Linked DNA regions of Homo sapiens: regions 1 and 2 are each linked to region 3. A link means that fine-mapping ties the variant in region 3 to the plasma level of a protein whose gene starts in the linked region. Region 3 holds a variant in brackets. A gene starts in each other region. All regions are shown on their reverse strands.

Region 1 (4,198 bases), not on the chromosome of region 3:
GTGTGTATATATATTCCATTTTGTGTGTGTGTGTGTGTATATATGTGTGTGTGTATGTACATATACACACACACAATGGAATATTATTCAGCCTTAAAAAGTAAGGAAATCCTGTCGCATGCTACAATACAGATGAAACTCGAAGACAAGTATGCTAAGTGAAACAAGCCAGTCACAAAAAGACAGACACTGTATGATACCAACTTATATAAGCAATCTAAAGTAGCCAAATTTCACAGAAACAGAAAGTAGAATGATGGATACCAGGGGCTGGGGGAAACGGCAAATGAAAAGTTAACGAGTTGGCATGGAGTTTCAGATTTGCAAGATGAAAAAGTTCAGGGGATCTGCTTCACAACAATGTGAATATACTTAATACTGCTGAAAACTGTATACTTAAAAACGGTTAGGGTCAGCTGGGTGCAGTGGCTCATGCCTGTAATCCCAGCACTTTGGGGAGCTGAGGTGGGCAGATCACCTGAGGTCAGGAGTTCAAGACCAGCCTGACCAACATGGTGAAAACCTGTCTCTATTAAAAATACAAAATTAGCCAGGCGTGGTGGTGCATGCCTGTAATCCCAGCTACTTGGGAGGCTGAGGCAGGAGAATCGCTTCAACCTGGGAGGTGGAGGCTGAGGTGAGCCAAGATGGCGCCATTGCACCCCAGCCTGGGCAACGAGAGCGAAACTAAAAAAAAAAAAAAAACAAAATTGTTAAGATGGTAAATTTTTTTTTTTTAACCACACACAAAAAGAATGTAGCTAAAGAAAAACAGTAAATAAATGGAAGGACATAGATATCAAGAAGATCCTGAGGATGGCACATGAAACGTCAATTTGGGATGCACCTGCTCAAACTCCTTCATTGTACTAATGGCCACAAATTAGCTGCCTGACCTGGACCTTGCCTGACCTTGCTCCTACCCTGTTCCTTTATTCTTCCCTTCCCCTAATCCAAGTCCTTAACTCCAGCAGGATATACAGGCCTCCCTATCTCTAGCATGGTCTCACCGGCTGCTTCCCCTAACAAGAATGTTCTCCCTTCAGACACCTCTACCAAATCCTACCTCATCTATGGGAGCTGCCATCCCCACTTGGCTGTTTTTACCACTCCTTTTAGCCCTTCACCATATGCTGCCTTGTAACTAAACTGTAAGCCTTTGAAAGAGGCAGATCCTACAGCATTTAATAATTCTAGCCATTGGGCAAGGCACTTTTTGGAGCCTCACTTTCTCAAGCCTATAAAAAAGGTGGAGGCGGCCATATGACTATGACCAGGGCTTTTGAGTCAGATGGCCTCAACTGGTATCCCAGCTCTTCCACTTACTAGTTGTGTGCTTTGGGTAAGTTTTATAACCTCTTTGCTTCTCAGTTTCTTCATCTGTATAATGGGGTTTATGATAAATCTCTCAGTATGGCTGGAAACATGAACCAAGATTATTACCCATGTCTAGTGCTTCCAAAGGCCCCTCTCATGTCAGTGCTTAGTAACCACTAGCCATTATTGGCATTATCCGGACAATGGAGAAGAGACTGGGAGCTTTCTCTTCTGGAAGAACAAGTGAAAGGATAAAGCGGGATGATGGTGGGAGAAATGTGCCCAAAATTCAAGGGGATGGAGAAAGGGGGCCGGGAAGGCGTGTCGGACAAGATTCTCGATGGAGGAGGATGCTGGGAGTGGGCCGGGGGCTTCTGGAGAGGTGAAGGGGCACCCCCGGACTCGGCTGTCGGTTTGGTCGCTTCCCCCGTAACCTTTCATTGGAAACACGGTGCTTGTAGGAAGAGGACGCCCTAACGGGCCCTGAGCGAAATCAGGCGGGTCGCTGCCGAGATCTCGGTTCGGTTTCCGACAGGTTTCCGGGCAGGTCCTCGCGGCGGGCCCGCTCCTCCTTCCACCTCCCACCTCTCTCACAGCCAGCGGGCGGGGCAGCCCTCGGCCGGCCGCCGGCCTCCGTCTCCCGGGGTGACCTGGGGGAGCGTTTCTGGGGTCTCCAGCGTGGCGCGCGGTCAGTCACTGACTCCAGTGAGGGGCTTCAAGGCCAGGGCTCCGGGGCACTTTATCCCCAACCCCGGCCGGAAGGCCCGCTTCGGCCCGTCGACCTGGGGACCAGGCCTTCGCCCTCGGTCGTACCTGACCTACGGCGGCCATCGCCGTTCTTGCCTTTCGTCTGCAGCTCCGTTGGGGCGGCCGCCGCCACTGCCTTGCCCTCGGCGCAGCCCATGTCGCACAAGGCCCTGTGGGAACTGACGGAGCCGAAGGACGCCTGGCGGAGGCCGCGAGCCCCCTGCCGGCCGCGGGTCGGAGAACGCGGTGGGCGGGGCGCTCGGTGACAACAGCGAAGTCATAGCCCGTGTATCTTCTTCAAGGTCGTGAATTTTTTTTTTTTAACAGGAAAGAACGGTCGCTAAAGGTAAATTGGAAAATGCAGAAATGGAAAGGAGAAAAGAGCGCACCACCCAAAATCCTTATCCTTCGGCTGGGCGCGGTGGCTTACACCTGTGCACTTTGGGAGGCCGAGGTGGGAGGATTGATCGCTTGAGCCCAGGAGTTTGAGACCATCCTGGGCAATGTAGAGAAACCCTGTTTCTACAAAAAATAATTTTAAAAAATTTATCCTTCACACAAACTACTTTTGCTGTGTTTACTATTTCTTTCCAGTTTTTCCCCTCTATGCATAGTTTTGCATCCAGCATTTCACTTAATACTAGTATTTTCCATACTATCACATAGTCTTGTAAGCCTCCCAGATAACCACCTGGCTTCCACTGTCACTTCAGTCTTTGCCTCTTTGACCGTAGATGAAGCATACACTGAACATCGTAGTTTCTTTTTAATACACTTTATTTTTTAGAGCAGTCTTTTTTTTTTTTTTTTTTTGAGACGGAGTCTCACTCTGTCACCCAGGCTGGAGTGCAGTGGCGCGATCTCAGCCCACTGCAACCTCTGCCTCCCAAGTTCAAGCGATTCTCCTGCCTCAGCCTCCCGAGTAGCTGGGACTACAGGCGTGTGCCACCATGCCCAGCTAATTTTTTGTATTTTTAGTAGAGACGGGGTTTCACCGTGTTAGGCAGGATGGTCTCGATCTCCTGACCTTGTGATCCGCCCGCCTCGGCCTCCCAAAGTGCTGGGATTACAGGCGTCAGCCACTGCGCCTGGCCTTAGAGCAGTCTTAAGTTCACAGCAAAAAGACCATCCTATTTGAACAGAAATCTGATCACGCCCCCCTCAACTCTACCCCCACCCTTTACTTTACTCTATTTTATTTTTACCAGCACTGAGAGCCTTCTAACTTACCCTATATTCTCTGTCACCTGCTCCCACTCCCTCCGCCAGCCTCCCCACGACACCCTGCCCATGTAAACGCTGCCAAAATAGAACCTTTGCATTTTTTTCTTGTATCTTGGCCTTCAGCTTGGGCCAGGTGGCCTCCCCCACCTCTTGAAGGAAAGCAGGGAAGAAGCGGGAAAATATTAATTTGAATAATTATAATAATGTAATAGTCCATCCACTAGAGCTACTGGACGATTACATAGCCTATTATTAGATGTTTAGTTTGTTTTTTATTTTTAAAAATTATGAATAAGGCTGCAGGGAACATCTTTGTGTTTATAGTTTTAAGGCTGTCATTACACGTTGCCAAAATTGCTTTTTTGGAACTGTGGTTCCCATTTGAACTCCTACTAGTAATGAATGAGAGTGATTTTTTTTAACACCAAACCACATTGCGGCACATCAGGTGCACAGTCACTGTTCTCTATCAGTGCAGTGCTCTGTTTTTCCTTCTTTCAATTAACTAACATATGGTAAGCATCCAACTTATGCCTGGCTTTGTTTAGGGTTACAAGGTGACTCAAATTCCCTGGTCTCAAGGAACTTCCACCCCAGCTGAGATTTAGTGAACTTGTCTGGTCACCAGATGCGTGGCAATTGTGTGGGCCCTTTGTTTTCATTTGGGTTTGTGGACAAGCTTATATCCTGCTTCTCTGGAGAGCAGCCCAGAGTCAAAATGCTCTTGGAAAACACTGGGTGTTTATTTGCTTAAACACAGAAAACAAATAAAACTGAACCAAAGGCTTTTTTTTTTTTTTTTTTTGGAGATGGAGTCTCGCTCTGTTGCCCAGACTGGAGTGCAGTGGCACGATCTCGGCTCACTGCAAGCTCCGCCTCCCGGGTTCACGCTATTCTTCTGCCTCAGCCT
Region 2 (4,227 bases), not on the chromosome of region 3:
ACTGAGCACTTACTGTGTGCCAGGCATTCTTCTGAGTGCTTTACACATATTCACTCACTTAACCCTACAACCACTGTAGCTACAAGGGAATTATCCCACTGTTATCATCCCCATTTTACAGATGAGGAGACTGAGGCACAGAGAGTTTAATTTGGCCAAGGTCACAAAGCTAATAAGTAACAAAGCTAAGATTTGAACCCAGGCCATTTGGCTGCAGAGTCCCTGCCCTCACCACTGCTGAGGTTGAACCTGAGTCTTGTCCTGAATGTTTCCTGGCATCCCAGCCCCAGCCTCATCTCCTCCTCCTCATGTCACTCCCCATTAGGCAGCAGCATATCCCCTCAGTATCCCAACTGCCTCCCAGAATGTTGCCCCACTCCAAGGCGCACCTCTGTCTGAGAAGCAGCTCCCAGCCTGTGTGGCCCCCAGTCTCAGCCAGCAAGACTGTAGGGCATCAGGGATCTACAGGTGGGGAAACTGAAGTCCAACAATGAGTCACAGGCCTCAATCAGGGAGCTGTTGGCAGAGCTGCATCTGTGACGCCTGGTTTGTTGTCCACCTTTCCTCGATGTGCAGGCTGGCACAGCTGTGAACGGCAGTGCTGGGTGTGTGCAGAGCTCTTCCTAGATCTTTCTTACGTGTCATCCTGTCTGACGCCCAGGGCAGGGATCGCCAGCCCCATGTTTCCATCTGGAAACAGAGGCCTTTGAAGGGAAAGGGGTCCACCCAGAGTTACTTCAGCCAGATCACATTAGGCTGAGGTTAGAACTTAGGTTTGGGGCCCCAGGCTCACTGTTATGTTCCCCAAGGTGCATCTGTTCTCTCAGGCACCAGCTCCAGGGGTCCCTGAACACTGCCCAGCAACCTCCCCAGTCACCTGAGGGTGGCTGGAGGGGACAAGCTAGTTCAGCCCTCAGGGAGGGCAGGAAGTGGGTGAATTTCTCACTTTATCTCCTTTAATTCTGCATATAGACAGCCCGCCTCTCACCCTACCATAAATAGCTCTTCCTGACAGAAGTAACCAACCCTAAATCTGGCTTCTGTCTCCTGTGTGCATGTACATGTAATGTTTACTACATCTGCGTGTTTCACCAGGACATAAATAGTATTTTTACATGTTTTCAGACTTCATGTAAAGAGATCCTACTGTGTATTTTTTAGAGATTTTATTTCCTCCCCCATTCAGTATGATATCTGTGAGATTCAATCCACACTGGTATATACGTAGCTCTAATTCTGACCGCCTTTTACAGATGAGACACGGGATCGGCAAGGTTACAGGACTTGCCTCGAATCATAGGTCTTGTAGGTGACCGAGACAGAATTTGGACTGTGTGATCCAGAGCCCTCTCTGCTTCTGGATCCTGCTGTCACCCACCTCCTTAGCACCTGCCTCCTACTCCACGTGCCCACGCCCATCCTGCTGCCCTGCTTCCTCTTGTCCTCTCCTTGGCAGGCATGTGAAAGACCGTTTTCACAAAGGTGTTAAGAACTTCCCGGGTTCCCCCACTGAGGGCACATGCATTTGAGGAAGTGCTGGGGAAAGCTCATTGGAGTGGGAAGCCAGGGCTTTGGGTCTGGCTCTACCAGCTGTGTGACCCCAACAAATCCCTCTGAGCCTCACTTTCCTTATCTGTATTATGAGGCTGCTTATAGGGGCCTGTGAATTTTATTAGGCGGGTGCAAAAGTAATTGTGGTTTTTGCCATTTAAAGTAATGTAATACCATGTCAGGGACTCGGGGACTCTGTCACTGACCAGAAAAAGGAGAGGAATTCTGAAATAGCTTCAGCATGAGGAGCAGGGTAAGAGAGCCTGGTGACAGACCCTGGCCAGCACCCCTTCCATCCCAGCCAGCAAGGGCCGTGGCCACACTTACCATGTGCAGCATGTCTGAGGCCGTCGGGGATACCTGGGCCCGGTAGAGGTTGTGCAGCTCCACCATCAAACGTTTCTCCTCATCTGTGAGGGCTCCAACGGGGCCTGTGGTGGCCACCAGCAGTAGCAGTAGCGGCAGCAGAAGCATCAGGAAACTGCAGGAGCCGTGCATGGTGGCCAGCCGTCTCTCCTTCTCCCGTCCAGGGGTCTGGCAGCTGGATTTAAAGTCCTTCCCACACAAGCACCACCCTGGCTGGGGTGGGGCAGTGGGGGCCGTGTTTGAGGCCCAGCCCGACTCACACAATGTCTCAGGGAGGGCTGGGCGCTTTGGGTCCCGACCAGCATCAAGTGCACTCCCCTTGGAGTCCTTGGCAAAAACCTCCTTTCTCTTGGTAACGGGGGCTCAGGCCAAAAGCTGTGTGAGTTCCTAAGTTGTGGACAGATCCTTCAGGGGCAAAATCACAGTAACCTCTGCAGAGCTGTGACTGGTTGCACCCAGGTCACACCCACTGTGTGTTGAAGATAGATAAGAGAAAGGAAACCACAGACCCTACCCACAGAGGAGTGGGCAAGATGAGGAAGCTATAGGCTTTTGAAAGGACAGAGGAAGACCAGATGTATTTGATAAAAGGCTGAGCCAACCTAAATCAGAATCCTGGTTCTGCCCCTTGCTATCTGTGTTTTGGCAGCTTTCTCAAGTGAATCAGTGACAATAATAGTACCTATCTCACAGGACTAGAGGGAAGATTCAATGACATATAATGTATGTAAAGCACCTAGTATGGTGTCTGGCACATAGTAGGCCCTCAGTAACAGTAGACAACCCACTCATGTGGCCTGGGCCTTAGCAGGCTACCAGCCCCCTGTGGAGGCAACATTCTTGCCTGCGGGGGGAGAGGCCAAGGTCTTCCCCACTCTAGCTGTATTCAGGAATAAGGCCTTTCACTATGGCAAAATTTTGGCTTCCAGGTATCCTCTCTGAATGCATGTGCTTGACATGCTCATTTGGAAGTGGGATGCTGGGACCCCTGTGCTCTAACTATGTAGAAATATAATGTGTCTGTTTCTTAAATCAAGAGAGAGCAGAAAAGCAGAAGGTTGAATGAGCTGATGCACCAGGAGCTCTGAGGGGAAGGTATTGGAAGGGAAATAGCCTTAGCAGTCAGGTGCTGGCATTATAATGACCTTGACCTTGCAGGGGCCATGACCGGTTCATGAAGCAGGAAGCTGGAACCAGTACTCTTGAGGACAGCTGGGATCCTTGAAGCCTGCTTCTTCAATGAATAGGGACCTAGAAAAAGTCTACCCACAGGCTTTGGAAGATGACAAGAAAACCTGTCCCTGCCTGAGTCTCCAAGTAAAAATAAAAACAAAACCAAGATGGATTACACACACATACACACACACACACACTTATTAGAATTAATAAAGTCAGCAAAGTTGCAGGATACAAAATTAACACATAGAAATTAGTTGTTTCTATACACTAATAATGAAAAATCCAAAAAGGAAATTAAGAAAACAATTTCATTTATAAAAGCAATGAAAAAGAATAAAAAGAATAAAATTCTTACCAATAAACTTTTTTTTTTTTTTTGAGATGGAGTCTCGCTCTGTCACCCAGGCTGGAGTGCAGTGGCATGATCTTGGCTCACTGCAACCTCTGCCTCCTGGGTTCAAGTGATTCTCCTGCCTCAGCCTCCCAAGTAGCTGGGACTACTTGCCCACCATGCTGCCCACCATAGCTGCTACCATGCCCGGCAAATTTTTGTATTTTTAGTAGAGATGGGGTTTCACCATGTTGGCCAAATGGTCTTGATCTCTTGACCTCGTGATCCGCCCGCCTCGGTCTCCCAAAGTGCTGGGATTACAGGTGTGAGCCACTGCGCCTGGCCCTTAGCAATAAACTTAACCAAGGAAGCAAAAGACTTGTACGCTGAAAATCACAAGTGTTGACAAACAAAGTGAAAGAAGACACAAATAAATGGAAAGTCATCCTATATTCATGGATTAGAAGACTTGATATTGCTAAGGTGTCAATGTTGCCTGAAGCAATCTACAGATTCAATGCAATCCCTATTGAAATGCAAATCATAATATTTTTATAGAAACAGAAAAATCCATCCTAAAATTTATATGGAATCTCAAAGGACCCCAAATAGTCAAAACAATCTTGAAAAAGAACAAAATTGGAAGTCTTACAGTTTCTGATTTTAATATGTAACCACAAATCTACAATAATTAAAATAGTGTGGTATTAGTATAAAGACAGACATTTAGACTAATGGAATAGAATAGCCCAGAAATAAACTCTTACACATATGGTCAAATGATTTTAGACAAGGGTACC
Region 3 (4,227 bases):
AGAAAAAGAACAACAAATTATTCCAAATGAAGGTGTGAGGAAGGGGACAAAAATAACAAGAGGAGTTACTAATGAGGGCTACGTGAAAACTCGATGAAGCCAAAAAAGCTCATTCTTGAGAATGTGAATTACATTCACAAATCCTAGCCACAATAAGCAAGGAAAAAAGCGGGGTTCAGGCACACATTTCCATATGGGGGTGAAACAGCAGACACCACCACAAATCTGACACATATTGCCTTTATTTTTTTCACTTTTAAGTTCAGGGATACATGTGCAGGTTTGTTAGACAGATAAACTTGTGTCAAGGGGATTTGTCTTGGTTTTTGTGTGAGGGTTTTTGTTTTGTTTTGTTTTGTTTTTTGAGACGGAGTCTCGCTCTATCACCAGGCTGGAGTACAGTGGAGTGATCTCGGCTCACTGCAACCTCTGCCTCCCGGGTTCAAGCGATTCTCCTGCCTCAGTCTCCCGAGTAACTGGGACTACAGGCACCTGCCACCACGCCCGGCTAATTTTTGTATTTTTAGTAGAGACAGGGTTTCTCCATGTTGGTCAGGCTGGTCTCAAACTCCCGACCTCAGGTGATCCGCCCGCCTCAGCCTCCCAAAGTGCTGGGCTTACAGGCGTGAGCCACCACGTCCAGCCCATACATTTCAATTTTAAAGGGATGCGCCCTAGTCCTTAGTTAGTCTCTCCTCATCTCTATAAAATGTTCAGCTACTCACCTCTTGGGCTATTGCTAGACATCGTTTTCTCTTCCTTCTTTCTGACGCCTACAATAGATAGGACATTCCCCCTCCTCATTCTATTCTCCCAAGTACTTTAAATTGCAATTTATAAAGTTTCTATGCTACACTCTAAAAAAAATTCTGTTTTGTTTTCTAATTTCATAATTGGTGCTTCACTGTGTCTTGTCCTCGAAGGAATGAGTATTTTGATTGTGTTCATTAAATCTGATTTTTCTATGTCTTCTAATTATTTTATATAATATTCATTCTGCTGTAGAAAAAAAAATCATATAATCCTGCCTCAGAAATTCAATGTCCTCTGTATTTCTCAAATATTTAAACATGTTTAACCTAAGATGGGTCTCACACATTCCTAGTACTCCTTTTGACCATGATAATCCTCATTAGTGAGTGTGGATTGTCAACCATAGCACTTTGTGTTTGATTTTTTGGTTTGTTTTTTGTTTTTATTTATTTATTTATTTATTTTTTGAGACGGAGTCTCACTCTGTCACCCAGGCTAGAGTGCAGTGGCGTGATCTCAGCTCACTGCAACCTCTGTCTCCTGAGTTCAAGCAACTCTCCTACCTTAGCCTCCCGAGTAGCTGGGACTACAGGTGCCCGCCACCACAACCAGCTAATCTTTTTTTTTTTTTTTTTTTGTATTTTTAGTAGAGATGGGGTTTCACCGTGTGGCCAGGATGGTCTCGATCTCTTGACCTCATGATCTGCCTGCCTCGGCCTCCCAAAGTGCTGGGATTACAGGCGTGAGCCACCACGCCCAGCCTGTGTTTGTTTTTGAGACAGGTTCTTGCTCTGTCACCCAGGCTAAAGTGCAGTGGCGCACCACCCCAGTTCACTGCAACCTCCGCCTGCCAGACTCAAGCGATCTTCGACCTCAGGCTCCTAAGTAGCTGGAACTACAGGTGTGCACCACCACACCCAGTTCATTTTTGTCTTTTTAGTAGAGATGGGGTTTCACCATGTTGCCCAGGCTGGTCTCGAACTCCTGGGCTCCAGCGATCTGCCCACCTCGGCCTCCCAGAGCGCTGGGAAAATAGGCGTGAGCCATCGCAGGCAGCCAGTCATAGCACTTTTTATCATTAGGATGATTCCTCTTTCTTCTCATTCTTGGACACTCATCTCCCAGTGCCTCATCTGCCAGAGAGGGTTTCTACCAGGGCTGCACTGGGCGTTAGGCTTGAAAAGAGGAGGACGGCACCACCTGCCCGGGTCTTGTGAGTCTGCTCAGGCCTGTAACCAGCAGGGGAGGGTCCAGTGTGAACCTCATGTCTGACAACTCTACAAT[G/C]AATCTATTTCACACACACAGAGGGGGAGGCTCAGGGCTGACCATAAACCTGAGTCAATGAGCAGAGATACCCCAGTGCCATCCACAAACACAGGGGACGAGGAGCCACAACTTCCCACTTTCACCCAAAACCCCAACCCCTCCCTGACTGTGAGGGCCCTGGGGTTCTCCTCTGTCTCATATAGAGGCGGAAACCTCCCTTTTAGTGATTCCCTGACATTGCAAGTCACCAGAAGCCAACTCAGCTCTGACCTCGCTGCTTCCTGAGGTTTCCTGCCTGTGTCAGGAAGTTTCATTTCTCATTTCCTTCTATGGCTGCGTATTTCAGAAACATGTATTAGTCAGGGTTCTCTAGAGGGGCAGAACTAACAGGATAGATGTATATATAAAGGGGAGTTTATTAAGGAGTATTGATCCACACGATCACAAGGTGAGGTCCCACAATAGACTGTCTGTAAGCTGAGGAGCAAGGAAGCTAGTCCGAGTACCAAAACCTCAGAAGCCGAGAAGCCGACAGTGCAGCCCTTCAGTCTGTGGTCAAAGGCTCTGCATGGGAAGGTCAGGGATTGGCAGAGTAGGAGATGGACCTGGCTGGGCTGGGGGTGAGAGCAATGCAGGGTCCGTCCTGTACAGCCCACTCCCTCCCCCAGGCCCTGCTGTGCTGGGGAAGGGAGGGTTGTAAGGAGGACACAGCCCCAGATGGAGACACTAAGACAGGCCCCTGCTGTCAGATGAGAAGACCCAGAGCAGGAAGCAGGTGTCCACCTGGTGGGGCAGCAGGAGGACAGCTGGGGAAAACACAAGGTCCCAGGTTCCCCTCCCAGACCTGCTTCTTCCAGGCTGGGGGGCCTGGGGCAGGCGATTCCCCCCTCTGAGCCTCAGTTTGTGCATCTGTGAAATGGGTTGGGGGGTTGGCAATCCCACGTTGCACGACTGCTGTGAGGGTTAGAGCTCATGAAGACCCAGCACGCGCCTGCACACAGTAGGTGCTCACATCAGCGATGTCATCCTCATTCCCGACGTCATCACGCGCAAGGTCTGGGAAGATACCTGGGGGTTGTAACCGGGGTCTCAGTGGCCTTTGTCCTGCCGCTCGTCCTCCTCCTCCAATGTCGGCGTCAGAGCAAACACAGGACATTGGGTGAGCAGGGACTGGGGGAACCTGTGGGCCCACCGAGGGTGGGATCAGGGCACCAACCAAAGGGGAACCAAACACACAAGAAAGTCAGCTTAGAAAAACAGCTCCAGAAAGTCCCAGCTGAAAAATCTAGAAAGAAGAGAATAAATATGAGTGTATGTGCAAGTAATTTATTCTTTGAGCTTTTTATTTTATTTTATTTGAGACGTGATCTGGCTCTGTCACCCAGGCTGGAGTGCAGTGGTGTGATCTCGGCTCGCTGCAACCTCCACCTCCCAAGATCCTCAATGATCCTCCTACCTCAGCCTCCTGAGTAGCTGGGACTACAGGCCCCTATCACCACGCCAGGCTAATTATTTTTTTGCGGGGGAGAGATGGGGGGTCTCACTATGTTGCCGAGGCTGGTCTCAAACTCCTGAGTTCAAGCAATCCACCCGCCTCAGCCTTCCAAAGTGCTGGGATTATAGGCATGAGCCATTCGGCCCAACGTCTTCGGGCCTTTTTAAGTGTATCCAGTATTTAAAACAACTATGCCTGTAATCGCAGTACTTTGGAAGGCTGAGGCAGGTGGATGGCTTGAGCCCAGGAGTTTCAGAGGACTCTGGGCAATGTGGTGAGACCCCATCTCTACAAAAAAAATTAAAAATGCAAATAAGCCAGGTTTGGTGGTGTGCACCCGTGGTCCCAGCTACTCAAGACGCTGAGGCAGGAGGATCACTTGACCCTATGAGGTCAAGGCTGCAGTGAGCTGGGATCGCACCACTGTGCTCCAGCCTGGGCGACAGAGCGAGACCTTGTCTCAAAAAAAAAAAAAAATATATATATATATATATATATATATGGGTGTGTTTTCAAGTTTCATTTTTTCCCCTAAAGTCGCATGTACTGGGTGGGTGGTTCTAAGGTTCCCAGGGCTGAGACTTTGTCCTTCTTCACCTAGCCCAGAGAGAGGCTGATTTCCAACACCCTGCAGGGGCCGTGGGACCAGAGCCCAAGAACAGGGGTCTGCTGAGGAGGTAATTCTGCCCAAAGACCCCAGACTCCCACACTCC

Alleles and levels. Alleles are on the strand shown, and positions count from the first base shown. The strength of an association depends on the size of the effect and on how common the allele is.
For the plasma level of the protein whose gene starts at base 2,245 in region 1, allele C in region 3 goes with a lower level than allele G (strong association).
For the plasma level of the protein whose gene starts at base 2,072 in region 2, allele G in region 3 goes with a lower level than allele C (strong association).

Evidence for each region. PIP is the posterior inclusion probability: the model's chance that the variant is causal. Protein levels are from antibody-based Olink assays in UK Biobank. Linkage for the fine-mapping came from a reference panel and not from the study's own genotypes, which makes the PIPs less certain.
Region 1: it holds the start of TXNRD1, and the variant in region 3 is fine-mapped to the plasma level of the TXNRD1 protein (UK Biobank, PIP above 0.99).
Region 2: it holds the start of PI16, and the variant in region 3 is fine-mapped to the plasma level of the PI16 protein (UK Biobank, PIP above 0.99).

What each region holds. Positions count from the first base shown.
Region 1 is chr12:104,213,826-104,218,023 of GRCh38, reverse strand. It overlaps TXNRD1 (thioredoxin reductase 1), which reads right to left and starts at 2,245. Exons shown (of 17, transcript NM_001093771.3): 1 at 2,131-2,245. The coding sequence starts at 2,221. RefSeq lists enhancers at 1,237-1,852, 1,853-2,469 and a silencer at 2,293-2,382.
Region 2 is chr6:36,952,583-36,956,809 of GRCh38, reverse strand. It overlaps PI16 (peptidase inhibitor 16), which reads right to left and starts at 2,072. Exons shown (of 7, transcript NM_153370.3): 1 at 1,879-2,072. The coding sequence starts at 2,049.
Region 3 is chr19:54,246,169-54,250,395 of GRCh38, reverse strand. LILRB5 (leukocyte immunoglobulin like receptor B5) reads left to right here. Exons shown (of 13, transcript NM_001081442.3): 13 at 1-975. It overlaps LOC107987463 (a long non-coding RNA gene), which reads left to right and starts at 2,450. Exons shown (of 3, transcript XR_007067341.1): 1 at 2,450-3,178; 2 at 4,116-4,227. The variant G/C (reference allele first, on the strand shown) is at 2,038.